3 separate regions of the Homo sapiens genome follow, and regions 1 and 2 are each linked to region 3. Evidence: fine-mapped expression QTL. A gene starts in region 3. Each other region holds a variant in brackets. All regions are shown on one strand. Distances are between the middles of the regions.

What was found. PIP is the estimated chance that this variant, and not a neighbour inherited with it, causes the effect. A credible set is the group of variants that fine-mapping cannot tell apart.
Region 1: its variant is the best candidate, but not a certain one, in a credible set for the expression of CD200R1 in whole blood (TOPMed, PIP 0.72).
Region 2: its variant is the best candidate, but not a certain one, in a credible set for the expression of CD200R1 in monocytes (Kim-Hellmuth 2017, PIP 0.56).

What each region holds. Positions count from the first base shown.
Region 1 is chr3:113,014,569-113,021,973 of GRCh38, forward strand. It overlaps RMP64 (ribonuclease MRP subunit p64), which reads right to left and starts at 5,103. Exons shown (of 9, transcript NM_015412.4): 1 at 4,974-5,103; 2 at 2,880-3,034. The coding sequence starts at 5,079. NEPRO-AS1 (NEPRO antisense RNA 1) reads left to right here and starts at 4,950. Exons shown (of 3, transcript NR_186663.1): 1 at 4,950-5,138. RefSeq lists an enhancer at 4,552-4,621 and a silencer at 4,782-4,891. The variant G/A (reference allele first, on the strand shown) is at 4,053.
Region 2 is chr3:112,923,656-112,931,060 of GRCh38, forward strand. CD200R1 (CD200 receptor 1) reads right to left here. Exons shown (of 8, transcript NM_138806.4): 4 at 5,535-5,852; 5 at 5,161-5,409; 6 at 1,430-1,538; 7 at 835-880; 8 at 1-144. The coding sequence ends at 22. Among named protein-coding and RNA genes, the nearest start is that of CD200R1, 48 kb to the right of the region's middle. The variant C/T (reference allele first, on the strand shown) is at 4,197.
Region 3 is chr3:112,970,654-112,978,058 of GRCh38, forward strand. It overlaps CD200R1 (CD200 receptor 1), which reads right to left and starts at 4,450. Exons shown (of 8, transcript NM_138806.4): 1 at 4,138-4,450. The coding sequence starts at 4,204.

The DNA of each region.
Region 1 (7,405 bases), 44 kb after region 3:
ATGGTCTCGATCTGGACCTTGTGATCCGCCCACCTCGGCCTCCCAAAGTGCTGGGATTACAGGCATGAGCCACCGCGCCTGGCCGACAACATGATTTTTAATAGTGAAACTATTAAAACAAGATAGAAAATTATTAACTACTAAATTTCAACAGTCTATAAAGTACCACAGAGATGAGGAAAACGATTGGCTTTAATCACTGAACAAATATATTCTTTGATTAGATGAAGCTTGTTCTTATGTTCCTCTGCATCTTCTCTCTTTCTCCCTTCTCTCTCTTGGGTTTTTTTTCTCTTTTGAACCGCAGTTCACTTACTATGTTTTCCAAGTGCTTTACCATCTGGGTTTGTCAATACCTCCCTCAAAGGATGGTGTCCAGACTTGAAAACTGAAAAAGATAGGAGCTGACCCTAAAGAATTTAAGGATTGTTCCCTCCATTATTCTTGAAAACCGCTGTTAAAACAGAATCCATAACCTTGGTTCAATTTCTAGAAGTATATTTGCAGCTCTGGCAAGATACTCTTGTTGCCAGTATCAATGCCCATCCAAATTTTTGTATCTGTCTAGATGCAGTCCCATGCTGCCCTTTGTGTGTTATTCCTGAGGACTACAGAATTCCTACAGCATTTTGTACCATGCATGGCTCTTACTTTTTTTAAAAAAAATTAAAAATCCTATTGAGTGCTTACTGAACACTGTTCTAAGAACTGGATTATGGTGGTAAACAAAAGGGACAAAATACATTGCCCTTGTGGAGCTTACATTATAGCTGGGAGAGAAAGGCAGTCAATCAATGGCAGGTGGTGTTAAGTGCTATGAAGACAAATAAGGCAGAGAGGGAGTGCTGAGAAGATTGCAATTTTAAATAGGGTCTGTTTTTATTTTAGCATTTAATTAAATATTTTACATGTCTTCCTATTTTTACTACTAGATTTTTAGCAACTAGAGATAGGGAAGTTTCTAATACCACTTTATCTGCCAGCATGCCCTACATGTACTCCACAGAACAGGAATCAAAACTACTTTCTGTGTTCCATTTAGGGGAATGTTTAGAGACAGGCCAATTCTAGTACTTACATGAAAGTTCTCTGAAAACTGTGAAATATTAAGCAGTTGTAAGGCAGTAGTAGAAGTGGTAATAGCAGCTGCAGCAGTAACATAAGCATAAAACATGTTTCCTACTTCAGGGATCACATGGAATATAAAATATATACACAAATAACTTTACCATGACACAGACTATATTAAATGCTATAAGTACAAAGAGGAGGCCCAAATAGCCAAGAATTTAAAAAAAAAAAAAAAAAAGCAACTTCAGTAATAATCAGAAAAATACAACTTAAAATGAGATTACTATAACACAGATTATCACTGCCAGAAAGGCTTAAAATGGGACTTAGAGGATAGGAAGGCCTTTAACAGGCAGACATGGTGAGGCTGGGCATTCTAAACATACAGGACCAGGTAAGCAGACTCAGAAGCAGGAACAAACATAGTGAGCATGCAGGTGTGTTGAGTCCAGGTTGGCTGGAATATAATCTATCTGAACGCAAGAGAGAAGCCCGAACTAAGAAGACTGAAGAGGCCAGATCACAGATCTCGTAAGCCAAACTAAGAAGTTTGGTCTTTACTCAGGACACAATGGAGAACGACTAAAAATCAAAGTTGTGTTTTCAGATGATTAACCTGGTTTTAATATTTAGAATATGCCAGAACTTAGGAAAAGCTGAAGGAGGAAACATCAGTTATGATAGTAAGACAACTAAAAGTTGACAAGGTCTAAGAAAGGAAAATGGCAGCCAGAACTGAAGAGGGGACCAGATGCAGAGGAAGTTTTGTCTTATGGACTGCCTGGATGGGAGAGCTACGTAAGAGAGAGAGACTAGAGAATGCCAAATTTTGATGACGGGGTGATTATTCACAACCCAGAAGCTAGAAGGAGAAATATATTCACTTTGAGGGTTAGCAAGCTTGCTTTTGGATCAAAAAGACTCCGAAAAAGATAAAAGCCACCCTAGAATGGAAAATTTAGGGAAAGACCATGGTCCCAGATCTTTCTTTGATGAAATCTTCACCCTGTTTGCTTTAAGTACTAGGGGTAGAAAACTAACCAGAAAGCATGCATCTATAAGGTTAGAGACTGTGTCTACCTTTTTCACTCCTCTATACACAGCACTAAGCAGAATGCCTGGCACACAGAAAGTTCAAAAACACTTGCAAGGTAGCCCTGTCACACAATGGATAGCCTTCTGAACTTCCAGAAAATACTTGCAGAATTAAGTGAATGAATGAATGAGCATATCAGGAAGCCAGCTTAAGAGAGGCTCTACTCTATGGTATAGCCCCTGAGCTGGAGGGCCCAATTTTGTCTTAAGCTCCAAACATTACATGAAACCAGTTTACACCACAACTTGCTATGTACCCATTTACTCTAACATACCACCAATTAGATTATGTACCCCATAATAAGTAGACAAGTTTTTTTAAAAATAATTTTAGCATTCTGATTATGCCCAGGGAACTGTTTCTTAATGTCCAACATTTTGTCTTGCTCAAATCACTTTATCTTTGAGCTGGGCAAAGGCACTGTTGTTATAGATTGTATATAATGAAGAAAATGTTTACTTGCCTATTAGAAACAAGACTGGGAAAGAATCTAAACATACTTCTTTTCTAACAAAAATTACTTTTTGAAATGCTGAAATGCTTTTAGGAAAAAAAAAGAAAGTGCACATGTAACTGTGGGCTATAGGCCTATAAAACACAAGTAATTTACTGAGATTTCCACGAGATTTCCATAAATAGCAATATAGTAAGTGGCAGTGTGATCTACATTTTCAAGTGAACAGGTTGGGTCTCACCTACCGGGCTTCCTCACCTGTTTGAGGGCCAAATGGGGTTTGTGGCGGCCCATTCTGTTGTGATTGCTGTAAAGGACTGCACATAACACATCTGTTTCTGCATCTAAGGTTTGGCTCTTCAGCGACAGTATGACGAGATGGCATTCTTTAATTACAGCTGCAATGCAAAGGTCTGAAGCAGAGACATCTAATAAGATTTAGTATGTATTTCTACAGTAAGTATATTATATTAAAAACACACTAAAAAAAGCATCTTTCCTTATTTGTTTTAAAGGAATCAAAAACTAATGTAATCAGTCTCAACTGTAAGAACGTAAGGATTCTAAGTATAAGAGAAGTTGGAAAATGGTAACAGATGATATAAAGTCCAGGAAATCATTAAGAGAACATCTGTAAAACAAGAAGCTGTATCTTTGCATTGCATTTTATCATGGTTTAATAATCTTTCATATGAATACTTTGCTGTCAGTCATTTGGTGTACACTTACGCCTCATGTGTACACTTAACCCCCACCTTGAAGGTAGGGCACATGTCACAACATGTGTAATAACTCTCTAACTCCCCATGTCGCTATGCCCGAAAGCAAGACAGAATGAATAAATTCACAGTCTTCAAAATCAAGGCTTCTGTGTTTGGATATCACTTTATGAGAGACACAAACATATTCAGAAAAGAAAAACCACCACAGTAACTGGAAATCGTATTATTTGATGAACACCGGGTGCTCATCAGCAGATGCTTCCTAGTCTGAAAATCTGTAGAAGTCCCTAAGATGTAGTTCATGTGTTATTTATGGCTCTAAAGGCAGCACTAGCATTCTAAATGGAAGTAAAGGCTGGTTGCTACCTAACAAGAATTTTCTTACTGTCCCAACAACTACCTGAAGACAGAATGGGCTGCCTCGGGGATGGGTAGTGAGTTGGTGAATTTCCCAGGCCTAATAGGAGTTGTTAAAGAATTTTTGAATAGAGAAAGAGGGAAGATTAATCTGTAAAGTGTGTAGGAAGGATAGATGGGATAATCTGTAAAGTGTGTAGGATGGATATATGGGAAAGGGGATGTGATGATCTAAGTCAAGCTTGTCCAACCCGCCTTATTTTGTTGTTCTGTTCTGTTTTGTTTTAGGCTTTTTGCAGCTTAAAGCCATGGTTTTTAGTTTGTCTCTAGTGAAAAGAGGGATGAGGAAAGG[G/A]CTTTACCAGCCCAACCGGAAACAAAGAACCCATGACTGTATTCTCTCCCTTGGGCCCCGGAGCTACGTATTTAATATTCATAACAGCTTCCATTTGAGTGTTCATTTACCATGCCAGGCAGTGTTCCAAATGCTTTCTCTACATTATCAACTCTTTCATCCCCCCAAACAGCCCTATGAGGAAGGTGCTTTTATCTCCATTTGAAAGTGAGATCAGTGAGGCACAGAAAGGTTCAATGACTCCTTCAAGCTCCAGCAAAGGGTAGAGCTAGTATTCAAACCCAAACAACCTGGCTCCTGCGCCAGGCTCCTACCTACTATATGCCCTTCACCCTAACAAATACCACCCATTTAGGTGGCAAAACACCGTCGTTTACAGCGCACTGTCTCCTAAATTACATCATTAGATATTCCCAACGCCCCTGTGAGGAGTAGGAGGACTAACTCCATTTCACAGATAAGCAGATAGAGGTCCGAAAAGATTGCAGTTTGAGTCCCAGTGCTTAGGTGACGTCCACCGCTCCTCGGGTACAGGAAAAAGAAGGAAAGGGGAAATGGACGGAAGGGTAAACAAGACTCCGAAGACCCGGGTGAGCAAGGGTTCCCAGGCAGCACTGTTCCCCGGCACCAGCTGAGTCCACCTCTCTCCGCCCCCTCAGCGCACGGCTGAGCCTTGGTCTTTCATCTCTCCAGCCAAGCCCTGGGTTAGCACAGCTGGTTCAATGAAGGAATGCGAAGCCAGAGGCCCTACAAGCTACACCAGCAAAGTGCTGGGACCGCTCGACCCCTACGTGCCCCGCGCCCCTTCCCAGCGTCCCCCGGGCCGGGAAGTCCCGGTACCACCCCCGCCCACATGCGCCGGCTGGGCCTGGCGGCCTCCCCCGGAAACGTTCCCCCATCCTCGCCCGGCGCCTCACTCACCAAGGGCCGCGCCGGGGTTCTGCACTGTCACTGCGCTGCGGTTCCCCGCCTTAGGGATTCTCACACGGTTCCACGGCTCCAGGCCCGGCGGCACCGCAGCCATCATGCGAGGCGGGGGGACTTACGAAAGGCGGAGCTACGCGAGAGCACGTCCAGCGACCGGAGGTGGGGCGATGGGACCCAGTCCGGGCCGGAAGGGAGCAGGGGGTGGGGCTCGGGCGGGGCCAGGAGCCCGGCGGGAGGCTGCCTTCATCGAGTAAACGCGTGGGACTGGGAAGGACCCAGTCATCTGTATATTGGTTACCAACACGTGGCCGCGTAGAATCATGGGGGAAAAAAGGCCCCATCCCAATACTAACCAACAGAATCTCTGAGAATGCGATGAGGAATCTGCGTTTTGTTTAAACTTAGCGCAGGGGATTCGGAAGCACAACCAAGTTTGGAACTGTTAAATACTTCTAGGCATTTTACAAATATGGAAAATGAGGCCCAGAATTGAGTTGGTGCTTTTACCCCCAACTCTGCCTCAGACATTAGGGGAAAAAGGAAGAAATGAAATGAAGAGGTTTGTGCAAGGTGTGGAATTTGTAGCGAAGAAGCAGTGATTTGCTTTGAGTGGTAAAGGAAGGCTCCTTTATGTCTTGAACCACAGCAAAACCGAGATCACATCAAAGAAACTTGGAAGACACCTGTCAGTCATTCCCACTTTTGTCAGTCTCCAAGACAAGATCATATTCCAAGCTCTAGTGATCCTTACCTCATTAATATCTTTCTAATAATTCATTTATCCTCAGCCATGCTAATGCCCCCTTAAGTTCTTAACACTCCCACAGTAACGTATTAGAAAAACAGTGAGTTTTGGAAACAGACTGCCAAGGTTCTAGTTCTAGCTTTGCTGTTTACTAGCTCGGTGATCTCAGGAAATTTACTTACCTCCTCCTCCAGACCTTAGTATCCCTGTGGGTAAAATGAAGATGATAATAATAGTATCAATCTCACAGACTTGTAAAATGCCAAGGCACTCCTGGCATACAAACAATGAACATTTACCATAGTTAATATTGTTGATGTTATTACTACTATTTCATGCAAGCAGTCTTACTTTATTGAAACACTTTCCATGCTCTTTCTGTGCGCCTTTACACATCTACCTACTCTACCTGGGTCATCCTCGGAAACACAATCTCCTTTCCTCAGCTCTGGGGTCGTCACTTGGGGTAATTCTTCCTAAACACCCCGTCCTCACTCCATAACTTGATACAGAGGCCCCTTTAATGTGTTACCACAGTGCCCTATGTTGGCCTATGTATTAGTTTTCTATTGCTGCTGTAACCAATTACGACAAACCTAATGGCTTGAAATAAGTAGAAGTTATTTTACATTTCTGGAGGTCAGAAGTCCAAAATTAATTTCAATGGACTGAAGTTGGCAGGGCTGGTTCCTTCCGGAATCTCTAGGGAAGAATTCATTTCCTTTCCTTTTCCAGCTTCTAGAGGCTGCCTTCATTCCTTGGCTCATTTCACTATCCTCCACCTTCATTGTCAGCATGACATTTTTCAGTCTCCTCCTCTTCCTCTGTCTCTCTCACCCTCCTGCCTGCCTCCCTCTTAAAAACACCCTTGTGATTACATTGAGCCCATCAAGATAATCAGGATAGTCACTCCATCTCAGAATCTTTAACTTAATCACATCTGTTTTAGAACTCCAAATTCAGGCTCATGTACCCGATGGGCAGCTGATGCCAAATATTGAGATACTGGTGCTTGGAGACAGAGAAATATTTATTCGATTTGACCAAAGTTAGAGGGCAAGAGAGCAAGATCTCTCAGATCCACAGTAACAAAAAAGAAGCAGGGAGTTTTTATGGAGCTAGAGAGTAATGGAGAGGGAGTTTCAAGGAATCCAAGGGAAAAGTCTGTGTTTCTTCCATTTCAGGTAACACCTTGTGCAGCCGTATGTACATGGCAGCTGGTTGCAATGTCCTTCCAGGAATTCATTCCTTCTGCAAACTATTCTTATGACCCTGAAGTTATCTCCTTCTGCTTGACAAAGAAACAGTACATCAGCAGTTTATAATTACATTGTGGGAACAAGGAATACTGGGCAAAAAGCGAGTGGTTAACATGTACAAGCAAGCAAGGGCCTGTTCAAAATTTTCATTATTTCATGCACACACACACACACACACACACACAAAAATGCTGGGGTGCTGAAATCTCAAGCAGCTGAAATCTCAAGGTTATATAGCTACAAAATCCCTTCTCAGTGCAAGGTAACATATTTACAGATTATGGAAATTAGCATGTGAACATCTTTGGGTGGGAGGTGGAGGGATCTTTATTCAGCCTACCACAGCCTCTCTCACAGAATTTACCTCGCTTTATTGTATTTCTTTGTTTACTTTCATGTCTATTTCTCCAATGGCATATGAA
Region 2 (7,405 bases), 47 kb before region 3:
TTGGTACTAGAGTCCAACAACTTATAAAGTATGGAGGTCTGTGTCAACTTCACTTTGTAATGCCTCAGATGCCTTCACCTTGTTTGTAGTATCATAGAGAGGATTGTTCTTCTCTGTGTAGCTGGCATAGGGCTGCATTTCATCCTAAGAAAGAACTCAAAGTTAAAATCAATTCAAAAAATCATCATAGAGACTATCTGTATTTTTGTAACAGTTGCCCATAGCTTTAGTATTTCTAACAGGTGCTCAAGAGTGCTTATAATTGTGTTTCTGGGCCTATATAAACATAAGAGCAGGATTTGTTCTAACATTTTATCAAAAAGTATTTGTTAACTACATAAGTCTCTGTGTGGAGATAATGGCTCTGTGCAAGTAGGAATGGAGATGAATGAAGTGATATGAGTACTCCAAAGGAGAGCTTTGGAGACTTAGTAAGCTACTTATAATAAGAGATGAAGGAGCAGGATATGTTTTAAGTTTGTGTAAGAGAAAAATAATGATAGTATTGAAAAGGAAAAGTCAGGAATTAGAGATGCTTTCAAATTGGTGACAAGAAACACCAATTCATTTCCTCAAAAGATTACAGTCTAAAGGAGCCAAACATCATATGTGTTAGGATATAGTTCATGAAGTGAAAATGTGGTTCAGAGTGATGATGTATAAATAGTATTTGATAGATAATTAACAAAGTAATCACACATATAAGCACTGCAAGTCAGAACTGTTTTAGTTTTTCAACTGAAACACTAATATTGATACAAACTACAAATTATGTTGCTAGATTTTCAGACTATTGGCTTAAGTTTGCAATTAGTCTTTTTTATCTTATCTTACCTCCTCAACAACTGGAGTAGATTCTGTTTTATTCAATTTATATTTTCTATAAAAATAAAATAAATTGAAGTGAATGGAGGAAACATCATTGTTTAGATCGAAAATGGGAAAATAAGACAGTATACTATTGACAATTGTGTTTAATTTTGATAGAAGCCATAATAAATCAGAAAGAAACTACTAGAAATAAGTGAAGAATACTGCTCGTGGTTAATATCCCCAACTAAGAATATTCCGGATTTTGAAAAAGTGAAATTATGCAATAGAAGCTTGATGCAATTGAATGCATGTAACATCTCCTCTTTGGTGCATGAAGGAATTGTAATTATTTACCCAAATGTGAAAATTAACATGCACTTTCTCTCCCAAGATCCTACCCTAAATGGCCTAATTTTCCATGCTTCTATGCCAAAGCAACCTAGCAAAGTCTCTCTCATCATTCAAAGTAGTCCAAGTCTATCTAACACCTTCAAGATTTGATTATGGGAGATTTGATGTTAACATCCTAATATACCCAATACGGTCAGTTCCATATTTCTGACTCTTTTCTAGCCTAATAAAGCTGAAGAAGAAAAAAACATTCATTAGTCAATACCTGCAGCCATTGACTTTCAACAACCAAATGAATCCCACGATGGTCAAAATAATAATAGTAAGGATGATATATGGAATATATAATTTTGCTGATTTTTTGGCACCTGGAACTATAGACACAAAAATATATGGTTCAAATGTGGTACAATCCAAATAATGTACTATCTTATTATTCAATGTTAAAAAGAAATGAGCTATCAAACCATAAAAAGACATAGAGGAATTTCAAATGTATGTTACTAAGTGAAACATGCCAATCTGGAAATGTTACATATTGTATGATTCCAATTGTAAGACATTACGGAAAAGATAAAACTAGGGGAATAGTCAATAAATTATTGATTATCTGGTGGTGAGGAAGGAGGGAGGAATAGAAAGAGCAAGGAGGATTGTGTAGGACAATAAAACTGTTCCATATAATACTGTACTGGTGGATACATGTCATTACACATTTGTCCAAACCCATGGAATGTACAACACCAAGAATGAACTCTAATGTAAAGTATGGACTTTGGGTGGTAATGTTGTATCAATGGAGGTTCAACAGTTCTAATAAATGTAACACTCTGGTGCAGGTGTAGGTGGGAGAGGTTGGACATGGGCGAAGGCAGGGCTTATATGGGAAATTTCTGTACTTTCCACTCAATTTTGCGGTGAACCTAAAACTGCTCTAAAAATTAATGTCTACTAAAAATAAAGTTATCTATATTTATATCCATATCTATCTATATAGATCATTCAATAATGTCTCACAATACATGAAATTCATATCTGTAGTTTCATTTTCAACACTTCTGCCCCATTAATAGTTTGAGAATTATTAAAATAAAACTGCTTTTTCAATACAGACTCCAGAGTTTTCAGCAAGACATCACCTTATATCAGGGTTTTGTTGCTTTAAAGATTCATTGGTGGTGAATTCCTACCACTCTGTTATAGCAGAGTGTTTCTCCCCTCCAACTAAATGGGCAATTGTAAGGAAGATACTTGGAAAAGTAACCCTAATTCTGAAGTCATCTTTCTCCCAGGGCATTGAAACTGAAATGAATACACAGCAGGAACTTTATTTATTAGCTGCTGGCAGCAATACAAAACTCTATCTGACAAGCGTGCAAATCAACCAAGGAATTGCCAGCCTGAGAGGCAACGATTTGCAAACTATGCTCCTGGTGTTGCATGAATATAGCTCAGGGGCAGCAGAGGAGATGAAGTGGAGACTGAGCAGGCTGGCCTCTGGTCCTTCCACCTTTCTTCCACAGTTGATGTTTTTAAATACTGAATTTCTCCATATGTTATATGAAAATTAAATGTTTGGTTACATTGTTTAAAACAACATTTTTTAAAACCCTTGCTTTCAAACTACTAAGCTCTCTCTCATTAAATTTGTACTAGCAGAAGCTGAAGATCCACCGTGCAAGGAAGACATCAAGGAGATCCCTGCTGTACATAGGAATTTGAATGAGAATTTCCCTTCAATTCTGAGACACTATAAATCTGACATCATATAGTAATATGAAAGGTGATATTTCACACATAACCAAGGCACAACTTCTCTTTTCAGTAAATATTGCTAAACTCAAAAAAACCTACACATATGACTTAAATGATAGATATAAATAAAGGTGGTTTCAACACATGAGATTTTCTCTTCTCCCTCATTAAAACTTACTAAAATGTTGGTAAAAATAATTTTTTTTTTAGTGTAGATCTGCAAAGACAAAGAGAAGAGGATGAAGACAAGAACAGATGAAAGATTTCGAACTGTTTTTAAGTGAGAAATGAATAGAAAACTCGCTAATGATTTACAACATAGAATAAATACAAACCTTAGTATACACAAAACTCCAGGAAAACTCTAGAGTAGGAAGCATCAAATATAGAAGAAGAAGTATGTGGAGGGGTGAAGTGTGGGGCTAAAAGTTGAGAGCTTCTTTGAAATTTTGTCTTGAGAACAGGCAGGTTCCCTTGTCTCCTGCTCCATTTTATGTAGCACACCTTTCCCAACTAGCAGAAAAAGGGGAGATTGGCAGATTGGTCCAAAGAAGATGAACTGGAGAGACTCCAAAGTCAAGGATCCAGACATCAGGGAGGGTGAGAATGAAATACCAGACTGAAGAGAGGTATAAAAGGAAGTCTGATTCTCAACAGTGGCACACTCACATGCACACTCACACACATACACATATTGCTCCCTCCTTTCCCAAACACTGGTAGTCAGGCTTATCTCTCCAAGGCCAGAAACTGCTGAGTTAATTTCTGCAGAGCCTGAACAGCCCCAGAGAAAAGGCCTTCAGATACATAACAAATCTCTAGTTATTAAAAAATCACAGCTTCTTTTCACTGAACTGAAGCTAACTAGTTGACAAATCCAACCATTAACTAGTTGAGCTTCCAAGTAGCTCATATAGTACTCACTTCAAAATGAATCCATACCCAAGGATTACCAAAGAGTGAAGAAAAGTCTCATATATGAAAGAAAGAGTTAAAAACAAACAAATGTATAGAAGACAGAAGAAACTCAGATTAAATAGACACAGGCTAAGTAGAGGACTGAGGCAATGAGAGTGTCCAGGACAATAGCTGTACAGCAGATCTAGAGGCCAATCAGGAGAGATTAGACCAAACACATACCAAAACTCAAGAAGGAATGACTTTGAGAAAAAATAGAACTAACAGATTACCTAATAAATCTGACCATGTAGAAAATATTACTAAGGGGTTCTCTAGTTTTGTCAATAGGCTTAGTGATAGTTCACGATAGGTACATA[C/T]ATTCTTAAGGAAACAAAAAAGGTAAAGCACTTATGAAGTCCAAGGAAAAAAAGTCATTTGAAAGAGAAAGCATGAGTGTATTTCTTGATTCAGCACTTAACAGTACTTAAATATTCAAATTGATGGGAACATAGGCTATTTAATGAAAAATTGCATTACCTCAACTAAAGTTTGAAGGAAAGGAAGAAGGTAATGTGAAATCCTCATCTACCATAAGAAGTTGTGATTACATAATGTCTAAATTTGATACAGTAAGAAATAGCAGTATGAGCATGTTGTATAAAAATGGCACTAATTACCAGAAGAAACACTGGAAAATTTGAAAGTACCTACCTGTGGGGAGTTTAATGGAGATGGCAATTGGGTTGGAAAGACAGGGGTAGAGCTAATGTTTTTCAGGAAGCCTTACAGAACAATTGCACTTTAAATATGTTTGTTGATATTTAATAGTTTTTAAATAACAAGAAATGAGAGTAGGATGAGAGCAGAGAGTAAATAAACTAAACAGTGATTAAATGAATCATAGATGTTATTATAAGACATTTAAGAAATTCAATGATGAAAAGTCCAGAAAACAAAATTACAACAAACTAAAAATTCATAAAAGCAACTTTGAGTAAATGTATCCTTCTAATAGAACCATAATTACATGCTTCAAAGTATACTTTATCTTTCAATAAGCCATAAGTATTATTTTTAAAAGTATACTACTCATGCTAATTAACTACTAGCATAGAAGTGAACATTAATAGTAGAATTAAACTGCATTCTAAAAAAGGGCTTTTTACAACAAATGTCTGTACTATTCTCCTCAACTCATCTCTTTATTTTGGTCAGGGAAGAGATAAAAATGAAGAGTGGGGAGAGCATCCTCGAACAAAATATATTTGCACATCTTTTTTTTTCTTAACTCTTTTAAAAGAATGGAAAAAAATAAAAAATAAAACTAAAAGAATTACTGACCAGGAAGTAGCTCTATGTACAGACTCTTGTTGCCAGTCAAATGGGAGACGTGGCAGGTCACGGTAGACACATTGTGGACCTCCCAGTGGCATGTACTCTTAACAGTCACTGTGCCATTGCTCCAGTATTCTTGCTTAGTGGCACAATCGCCCTCTGGGATCCAGGAGATATGCGCAGCTGGCTTCCCTGCAACTGCCTTGCATACTGCAGTTCTATTCCTGTTTTGAAACAGGGTCACTTCAGGTGTAACTGCAGAGAGGAAAGAGGGAAAAAAATGCTTCGGTTTTCACATAAAGCATATGGAATTCAGAGAGACATTTGTTTCCGTCACAAATCTGGTGATGTGAAATACCTCAATATATGATGCTCCTTACCTAACACTTGGAGGTGATATCCACGATGGAAATTCCCATCAGGTGTTACCATTATGCATCTGTAATACCCGTCATGAGTGATGGCCACGGTACGAATCTGAAGGTCCGAATTCTGATCAGGTCTGGAGACCCAGGTTATTCTCTCATCAGTACAGTTGGTTTCCTTGGTCTCATTTGTTTCTTTCTTGTAGGCTTTTGTGCAGGAAGGCTGGCCTCTCAGGATTATTTCCCATGTTATTATGATCAAATTTCTTAATGCGATAGGAGGGCAACAAAGCACAGCATTTGTAGCCATCTTTACAGGCCATGAAGTGTTAACTGGACATGAAAAGAGAATGATAAAAGAAAAGCTTGATAAAGAACTTCATGTGTTACATTTATCCACAACATATGAAGTTACACTAGAACATAACTTTGTTGGTGATCTTATTCCAAAAATATTAGACCTTCATAAAAAATTAAAATTCTCAAAATATAAATAATATATTGAACCCAATCTAGAGATTAACCAATTTTCTCCTGTATTATGTATTATTAGAAATATGATATATAATAAAGTATTTTTTATATTAATGGAGAAGTTTTAATATCTAGAAACAAAGAGAATTGTAAATTAAACAACAAAGGCAATGTTCTACATCTAATCTTTAGGTGGTGGAGACTATTGCCTTTATCATACAATGTATGTGCCACAGGAAAGAAAATGGAACAATTAGTGATGTGGCTGTCTCCTCCTCAGCTTTGGTGAGCACAAAAAAGTCTATCTCTAAGGTTTTTGTTTCAGACAAACATAAATGTGGTATGTATTAATATATAGTGCTTTCTTTTAAAGTAACTAATATGGCATTTGGGTTGAACTAGCTAGAAATTTTTTTAAGTTCTTTTTTTTAAAAAGAATCACAAAGTCAGTGAAACCCACAGATCTTTAAAAAAAAAAAAACTATTATTCCACCAGTTGAGCCATCCCATAAAAATGAAAAATGATAATGCCCTGTGATAAGAGATGCTTAGAAATATTTATTTCTTGTGAAAATATAGTGTGATATATAATTTTTAAAAAACGATTTATTTCCCTTTAGACATTTTTTATTAAAAATATTTTATTGCAAATTTATGACATTATCAAATGTAGCCTTTGGATGAGTTTTCATTCCTTCCTATTTAGTCACACATACACTTTCAGATAGTTCAGCTGTGAACTTAGCTCACAGATTTTATTTCTGTATATTCAATCCAATTATCAACACTAAAGGCGTAAGTTGATCCCTGTTGTCCATCATTTAAAGGAAAAATTAAGCCCTGCATCCTACAAGCATCTTCCAACGTAGAACCTCATGCATCCCATAAATCGACACAATGTGTCAGTGACTTGGTAAGGGTTTACTGAGAGGTGATTAGTCCACCAAAGTATTTGTCACTACTCACCTCTAACAAAGGTAAGTGTCAGTGATTTCATCACTATAGCATAAGCAGAATCAGCTATAGAGGGGCAAACCTTTATGTGGGTGAAGGATGTTTTTGCTAAACCCTGCATTTAACATCTTTCCTATCCTGTTTTGGTGTCACCTGTCTCTTACATGGTTTGTACTCTAGCCCTTGCATTTCACAGCAAATTAATAAGTACATAACTAGATGAAGAAAGAGGTAATACTTTAACATAGATCTGAGAGGTAGTTAAATCCATGCTCCTTCCGCCACTCCACCTTAGCAAAGGTTCAGAGACAAGCAAGAACATGGCTTGTTTGGAGAACAACTAGAGGTTGGGTCATTCAGGATCCCTCATACCACAGTACTCAGATCACCAAGTTCTTCAAGTAGTCATAAGGCTGGCTTCCAGTCAGGTCATTAGCTAATATTTCTAAGGAAGTTCA
Region 3 (7,405 bases):
AAATCAAACAACAACTGGGTCATTTTATTAACTAAATGCCATTAACTGAAATATTCATGACCTTATTGGGAGGAAATTTATCTACGGTAAACTCTCTCATTTGTTCCCATTACCTTATTGCCATCCTCAAGCTACTAGCATCCCTCTATCTAATGTCTCATCTTAATCCTCAATTTCAGAAGAGTATCTCCTCCTACATGAGGTTAAGCACTCAATTGATACTCCACTTTGGCTCCCTTCCTGTCTCTTCTCAGATCTTCCTATCTTTTATAGACTGGAAAGAGATAAGTATGGTTCTTAGAGCCCAAATCCAAATATCTCTAGTGCTTATTCTATTGTTTTTGTCCATATGTTTATTCTGTTCGTGGGATGGATCATCTACTTCATGAATGATTCACAAACACTAGAGTTTTCTATACAGTCATCCCTCAGTGTCCTTGGGGGATTAGTTCTAGACCCCCAGAGATGGCAAAATTCAAGGATGCTCAAATCCCTAATATAAAATGGTGTAGTATTTCATATAACCTATGTACAATCTCTCACATACTTTCAATCATCTCTAGATTGCTATAAAACCTAATACAATGTAAATAATACATAAGTAGCTATTATATTGAATTATTTAGGAAATGACAAGAACAAAATCTGTACATGTTCAGTACTAATGAAATCATCTATTTTTTCCCTTTATATTTTCAACTGAAGTTGGTTGAATCCAGGGATGCAATACAGAGGGCTGACTGTATTTCCAAGTATCTGTAGGAATTTTCCTCCTACTTGTCCTCCCTTCCTATACTGAATTTAATATCTTCCTCCACAACGAAACTCCCTTCTCAGTCACATATATACCTCAGCGGCATCACAGAACTTTTTTCAAATGAGAACCCCAGGGCAGAAGCTCTTGACTCATGTTTCAAAATAAATATTTTACCTAGTGCCACCGCCACTCAATGGGACACTGTTACCACATTATTCTCCAAAAAATCCTACTTAATTATAAATTTTCCTGTTCACCAAAGAACAGGTGGTTCCTCATTGTCTACTGACTAATACCCAGGTTCTTTAATTTAGCTATTAAGGACCCCCAAAATCCAGCCTTATTTCCTACTATTATTTAACACACAACCTCTGTTCCTGCAAGCTACAGCTCTTTCTCTCTCTGAAGCACCTTGCATTTGCACATGCTACACATCCCATCCTTCCAATTCCTTTCTCTGCATTTCCCCATTTATCCAAACCTGTCATTCAAAGCCTAGCTCAAGACCCATCTCCATAAAATCCTCCACAACTCCAACCCACTGTAATTTCTCCCTCCTTTAGATTTGTACTAGTTTCATATACAATTTCAAGATTTACTGATTTTAAATGTTCACCAATTGTTTCATCTTACCTTTGTCTTTCTAATTTAGATTACTAATAACTTTTAGGCACTATTCTACACACACACACAGACATTAATAAGGACTTTTAATTAATTTATTAATTGCTTAAGCATGAACATTTAGAGAAAAACACACCTATAAATTATTATAACATGTAAATTCACAAATATGCAAACTAGAAAAGGAAGATAGGACTAAAGTTATTAATAAGGACAAAACCCTTCTTTTGCACAATTGTTTTGAATCTTTTTCCACTGTTTGCAAATCTGCCAAAGCTACCTTAGAGCCCTGTCTTGATTTTTATCTCCTCTTCTTGTTACTGCCTGTCCTCTAGTGGAAGACAACAATAAATGAATAAAAATTAGCCCAAAGAAGGAAAGAAGTGAAGGGTTCCTTTTTAGTAACTCATAATCACAAAATCAGTAACTTTTATAAAAGATGGAATAATTTTAATTGGAACACCAAAATATAATTTGAACACACACACAAAAATCTAGAAGACAATAGGGCTAAAAAAAAGGAGGAAGAAGTGGCACAGGGTACGGGGAGTGTCCGGGAAGGGGACCAGGTACAAGGCTGGGAATATAGCTCTGATGTACACAATTTAGGTTGTTTTTATTTTTCCCCTTAGGTTTTTTCTGGATAAATCTTGTTTACTAACTGCCAAGCTGCTTGAAGTTATAAGCAAATAAGTAGACAAAAAGAAAATAGGGAAACCAAATGAATACTATGTTTTACATTTAAGTCATTAGCTCCCTTGTTCCTTTGTGAATTTACCTTGTACAAAGCGAGTTCTTTCTGTTTGGCAGTATTAATAACATAGCAGTTTTAGCAATAAAGACATAAAGTCATATTTCCCCAAGTGGTATGCTTCTCATTATTCTAAATCATGTCATGGTTAACCTATCACACCAAATCACTACATGTAAAGTAATATGCTTTTTTAAATCCTGATTTTAAACATTTAATAACTTTACAATAACATAAGCATAGACTTCATAGATCTGCTATATGTAGTCTTTCCTAGTTGTGTTCAGAAATAGTTTTAAAATTTAAACCTTTCAACCTTTAAAATTGAAAATTACAAATTATGTTTTAATCATTTTTTTTCCTTTTCCCAGGAGTAACAGTGCAATTTGACATAAACAGCTCCTTGCCTATCTGGCTGCCCCAGCCAAGCTGGGTCCTACACAAGTTGCTATAAGAGCTTTCTACAACAAGATCTGAACTACTGAAAGATTCAGATCACTTGACTTTTTAGGTGAGTAACAGTCTATTAAGGCTAAAACTAAGTATTGGCTTGACTTTTTTCACTGATGCTCTTCAGTGAAAAGCACAATGGTTAAATAATGAGGAAAATTGCCCACTCAAATGTTTAGTGGTGCTTACTGATGTATATCATTACTGATTGTGATTCTGGCACATACTAGTCATATCTAACCTTGGCCAAATCATTTCACCTCTCTACGCCTCCATTTCTACCTTTGTAAAATGGAGAGGTGTCTTCCATGTCTACTTCACTGGGTTGCTGTGCAGATCAAAGGGAAAAAAGCATGTGAAAATTCTCAATAGAAAGGTGCAGTCAAAGAGTGTAGTTATTTTGCATGTGTTCACTAGTAAGATTAACATGTGGAAAGAAGATTTTTTGTGGAAGATAAGCAGCATTTTAAAGTCATTCAGAAATGAGGAAAAATACCTTTTCTTCTTTCAATTATCAAATTATAACATTTAAAACCAACTACACTCTTCCCTTGCAGCTGCTCTGTCTACCAAAAGTGAAACCTGAAAACTCCCTCCCACACCAACTCCTACCAACCTTCTACAGTGAAACCAGGACACCCCCACAGTGGCCCAAGTTCTCTATAACTTCTATAGGAACCTAGATGTTGAAGAGTCTGTTCTCTAACTCGTAGTGTCTCTTACAGCCCACACATCTTGAAGATAAATACAGACATACATCACAGACGCACCACTGTAACTGTAGGCATATTATATTTTTGAAGTGCCTAATCATCGAAAGTGACAGAAAGCAATAAACTGTCCTAATCTATGCCACTGGCAATGTGGACCTAAATGAGTTAGCGTTCTTATCTTAAAAAAAAAAATTAAGAGAGAAGAGGCTGGGTGCAGTGGCTCATGCCTGTAATCCCAATGCTTTGGGAGTCTGAGGTGGGAGAATTGCTTGAAGACAGGAGCTCAAGACCAGCATGGACAATATAGCAAGACTCTATCTCTACCAAAAATTTTAAAAATTAGCCAAGCATAGTGGCGCATATCTGTAGTCCTAGACACTCAGGAGGCTGAGTGGGAGGACTGCTTGAGACCTGGAGTTACAGGCTGCAGTGAGCTACGATTGCACCACTGCACTCCAGCCTGGGCAACAGAGCAAGACCCTGTCTCAAAAAAGGGGGTTGGGGAAGAGAATAAGATAAAGAGAACCTAACTGACTTTGATTGCTGCTAGTATGTATTTGATTTATCCTGCCTTGTTCAAAAAACAGGAGGAAATAAGGAAATGGACAGTAAGACAAATTATAGAGATCTGTATATTGTAGTAGGATACAAAGTACAACAAGCAAGACACCGGAAAAAAGGATAATAAAGTAAACTAGATATGGGAGTAACCCATATTTAGCAACCCCCTATATTTATTATTGCAATTGATTTGTATTGCCCCAGAAGAAAGACAAAAAATAAACTCAGGAAGAGCTGAGACCAGGTTTCTCACTGTTCTCCCAAAGAGAATTCAAACTTACCGGCCACTAAGAAGATAGTCAAAATCAACAGTAGCCCTAGGTTAGCAGTTCTCCAAGGGCAGAGCATTTCTGTTTTCTCTTTTTCTGCCCTTCACTCAGTACTTTTCCTCCACACAGGTACAGAAGGAACTGTGCGCATGGTGAGACCCTCTCTGGTCAACTTCTCAGTACAGGATCCTCTTACCCCATCAACAGTGGGGCACTCCCTTCCTTCTAGCCCCTTCCTTCACGTCTATGTGGTTTAGCCTGGTTAGTAACTTGGACGAACAGAAGCTTTTCTCTGGAACTTGACACAGCAATAGATTTCCTGTATGAAGCCCTGAAGCAAAGACGGAGGAAGCAGATTGATTGAATTATCTCTCAGCTCATTGGTTCTCCTCTCACTTCTGCTGTACACAGACAAACTTTACAGTAAGGCATTGAACGTGTCCAAGATAAACAGATTTGTCTAAACTTGCACCAAAAAGTAAAACAGAATATTGATCTACTTTGGCCCATCCTTGTAAATTTCCCAATTATGATGACTTTTAGAGGCTTTCTCCAGGTTGAAGAGCTTTACGGCCTTAGTATTTGAGTCTGGAATACAATATGTTTTCTTGAAAATTATTGTGTGAAATTCCTGTCTATAATGGGAGTCAACACACAACCCTGTAAACATCATATGTGTATTAGTTTCCTATTGCTACTGTAAGAAATTACCACAAACTCAGTGGCTTAACACAACACAACATTTATTATCTTACAGTTCTGGTGATCAGAAGTCTGAAATGGATCTTAGGGGACTAAAATCAAGGTGTTGGAAGGGCTGCACTCCATCTGGAGGCTCGGGCAGAATTTGCTCCCTGCCTTTTCCAGCGATTTGAGAATGCCTGCATTTCTTGGCTTGCAGCTACATCATTCGGACCTCTGGTCCACTGTCACATCTTCTCTGACTGTGACCCTTATGCCTCCCTTTTATAAAGACCTTGTGATTATTTTTGGTCCACCCAAATAATCCAACATGATCTAATTTCAAGATCTTAATTTAATCACATCTGCAAAGTCCTTTTTGCCACACAAGGTAACATTCACAGGTTTCGGTAATTCGGACATAGGTATCTACCTTGTTGGGGGTGAGGGCATTCTGTTTATCAGAACTCAGTACTTATTGCCATTCAGTTTCACCTTTGGAAAATTAGACTGATCATTTTAACCAAATTACAAATAATCACCCATCTCTTAGTTGCCACACATCTGGAATTCAGACTCCCCCTAACCAAAAAAAAAAAACAACAACAACAACAAAAAAACCTCTTCCTTACTGTTGCTAGTTACTATGTTACTATGCTTTTAAGTTATGTCTGAGAGAGGGAAAAATCTTCTATGTGCTGAGAATTTTCTGCCCCAAGGCAAAACTGTACAGGAAGGGGAAGAAAACATTGCAAACAGGAAAAAGATTAAACAGCATGCATTTTTTTTCTCAGTTAGCAGTTTCATCTTCCTTCTTGCCAAACATTATAAATATTTCCCCCCTTCCCCTTCTCAAGCTTTTTTTTCCAGTTAATTAATTTGATGAAGACAGTGAAACCAGATCCTTGAGGGCATGGAACACTTAAGGGTATGAGCTGTGACAATGGGAAGACCAAAACAAAAATGTCTTCTCTTCTGTCTAATGTTTCACCAGGTGTCGGAAAATTAGTGAGAATACATCATTTAAAATACAGATAATATTCTGGTTTTCCACTACATAGAAGTGAAAGTTGGCCGGGAGTAGTGGCTCATGTCTGTAATCTTAGGACACTGGGAGGCCGAGGCGGGCAGATTGCCTGAGCTCAGGAGTTCGAGACCAGCCTGGGCAACATGACAAAACTCCAAACTCCATCTCTACTTAAAAAAAAAAAAAAAAATTAGCCAGGTGTGATGGCACTCATCTGTAGTCCCAGCTACTTGGGAGGCTGAGGCATGAGAATCGCTTGAACCCAGGAGGCAGAGGTTGCAGTGAGCAGAGAGAAGTTAAAGTTAAAATTCACACTCGCTTAGGATACAGATAGACATAGGGTTAAGTCTCTGTTGTGCAATTACTAGTCCAGTGATACTGGGAAAGTTTCTTACTCAAGTCTGTATCTGTTTATATTATATTGACATTAGCTTTTTCTCATGTCATCAAAAATTCTTGGAGATCATTTATTTTAATATCTGCTCAATGACATAGCCAAAACTAAACCACAGAAGGGCTAAATGGCCTGTGGCCTCAAAACAACTTATTGGCACGGCTGGGAATAAAATGTGTTATATTTCGTAGCCCTGTGTTCTTTTCACTCAACTCCTCTACTTTGAAATTTCAGGCAACAACTTTCATAGACACACTCCAATGCACTCACCTGAGGTCAGACCACAATCTGCAATCAGCAGTTTAAGAATCAAGTGATGGGTATCAAAAACCATAAAATTCACTAAATAGATTTGGCAGGATGACAGTTTCTCTCCCTGGTCCCTCATCCTCTCCACCCCCAAATCACATGCCTGTAACCTCTCAACTCCCACCTTCTACCTTTTATGGACCATGAATGTTTAAAACAATAAAGGGACTAAAAGTTTGTTAACATAATCATCCACTAAAGACATGCCATGAAAGTCAGTATAATAAGAGAAAGATGTGTCTGGTAAATACACCTCTCTAAAAAATCTAAAGGCCCCAAATTCTCCCTGGTTGCGGCCCTTGGGCACAGGACCCAGGAAGCAAAGCAAAAGAGTGAAAAAGGATCAAGAAACAGGTGTCATTCAAACCAGAAACCCAAACCTTTTACTCTACCAGTTTTCCAATTCTCCTTCAATAATACCAGTTAAGAATCATAGCATAAGAGAAACAAACAGGACAATGTAATGCCAGTTAATGTTGTAGCCAAAACAAAAAGACAGAGAAACTTTAGTAAATTAGAACTACTTTAGGCCATAATGCCCCCAAACCAGCATGGCTGGTTTACTCAATTTATCAATTGCAATAAACTGAAAATTGATGTAATAACTATAAATGTTGTTGAAGTAAACTTCTTCCAATCAGGTGTATATCTTTCTCTCCAATGTCAGATTCAGACTTAGCCACACTGAAACCATTTAAGATGAAGTGTTGCAGCCTTCCTCTTGGGATTCCTCCCCATTATGTAGAAGATTTGCATGGCTCTTGAATACTTACTGCAAAGATTCTATGGACTTTTATTCCTGACTTCTCGTTCCCGGGACCCTTTGCTCCCCAGTACCATTGCCGACTCATTCACCTCTTATATTTGAG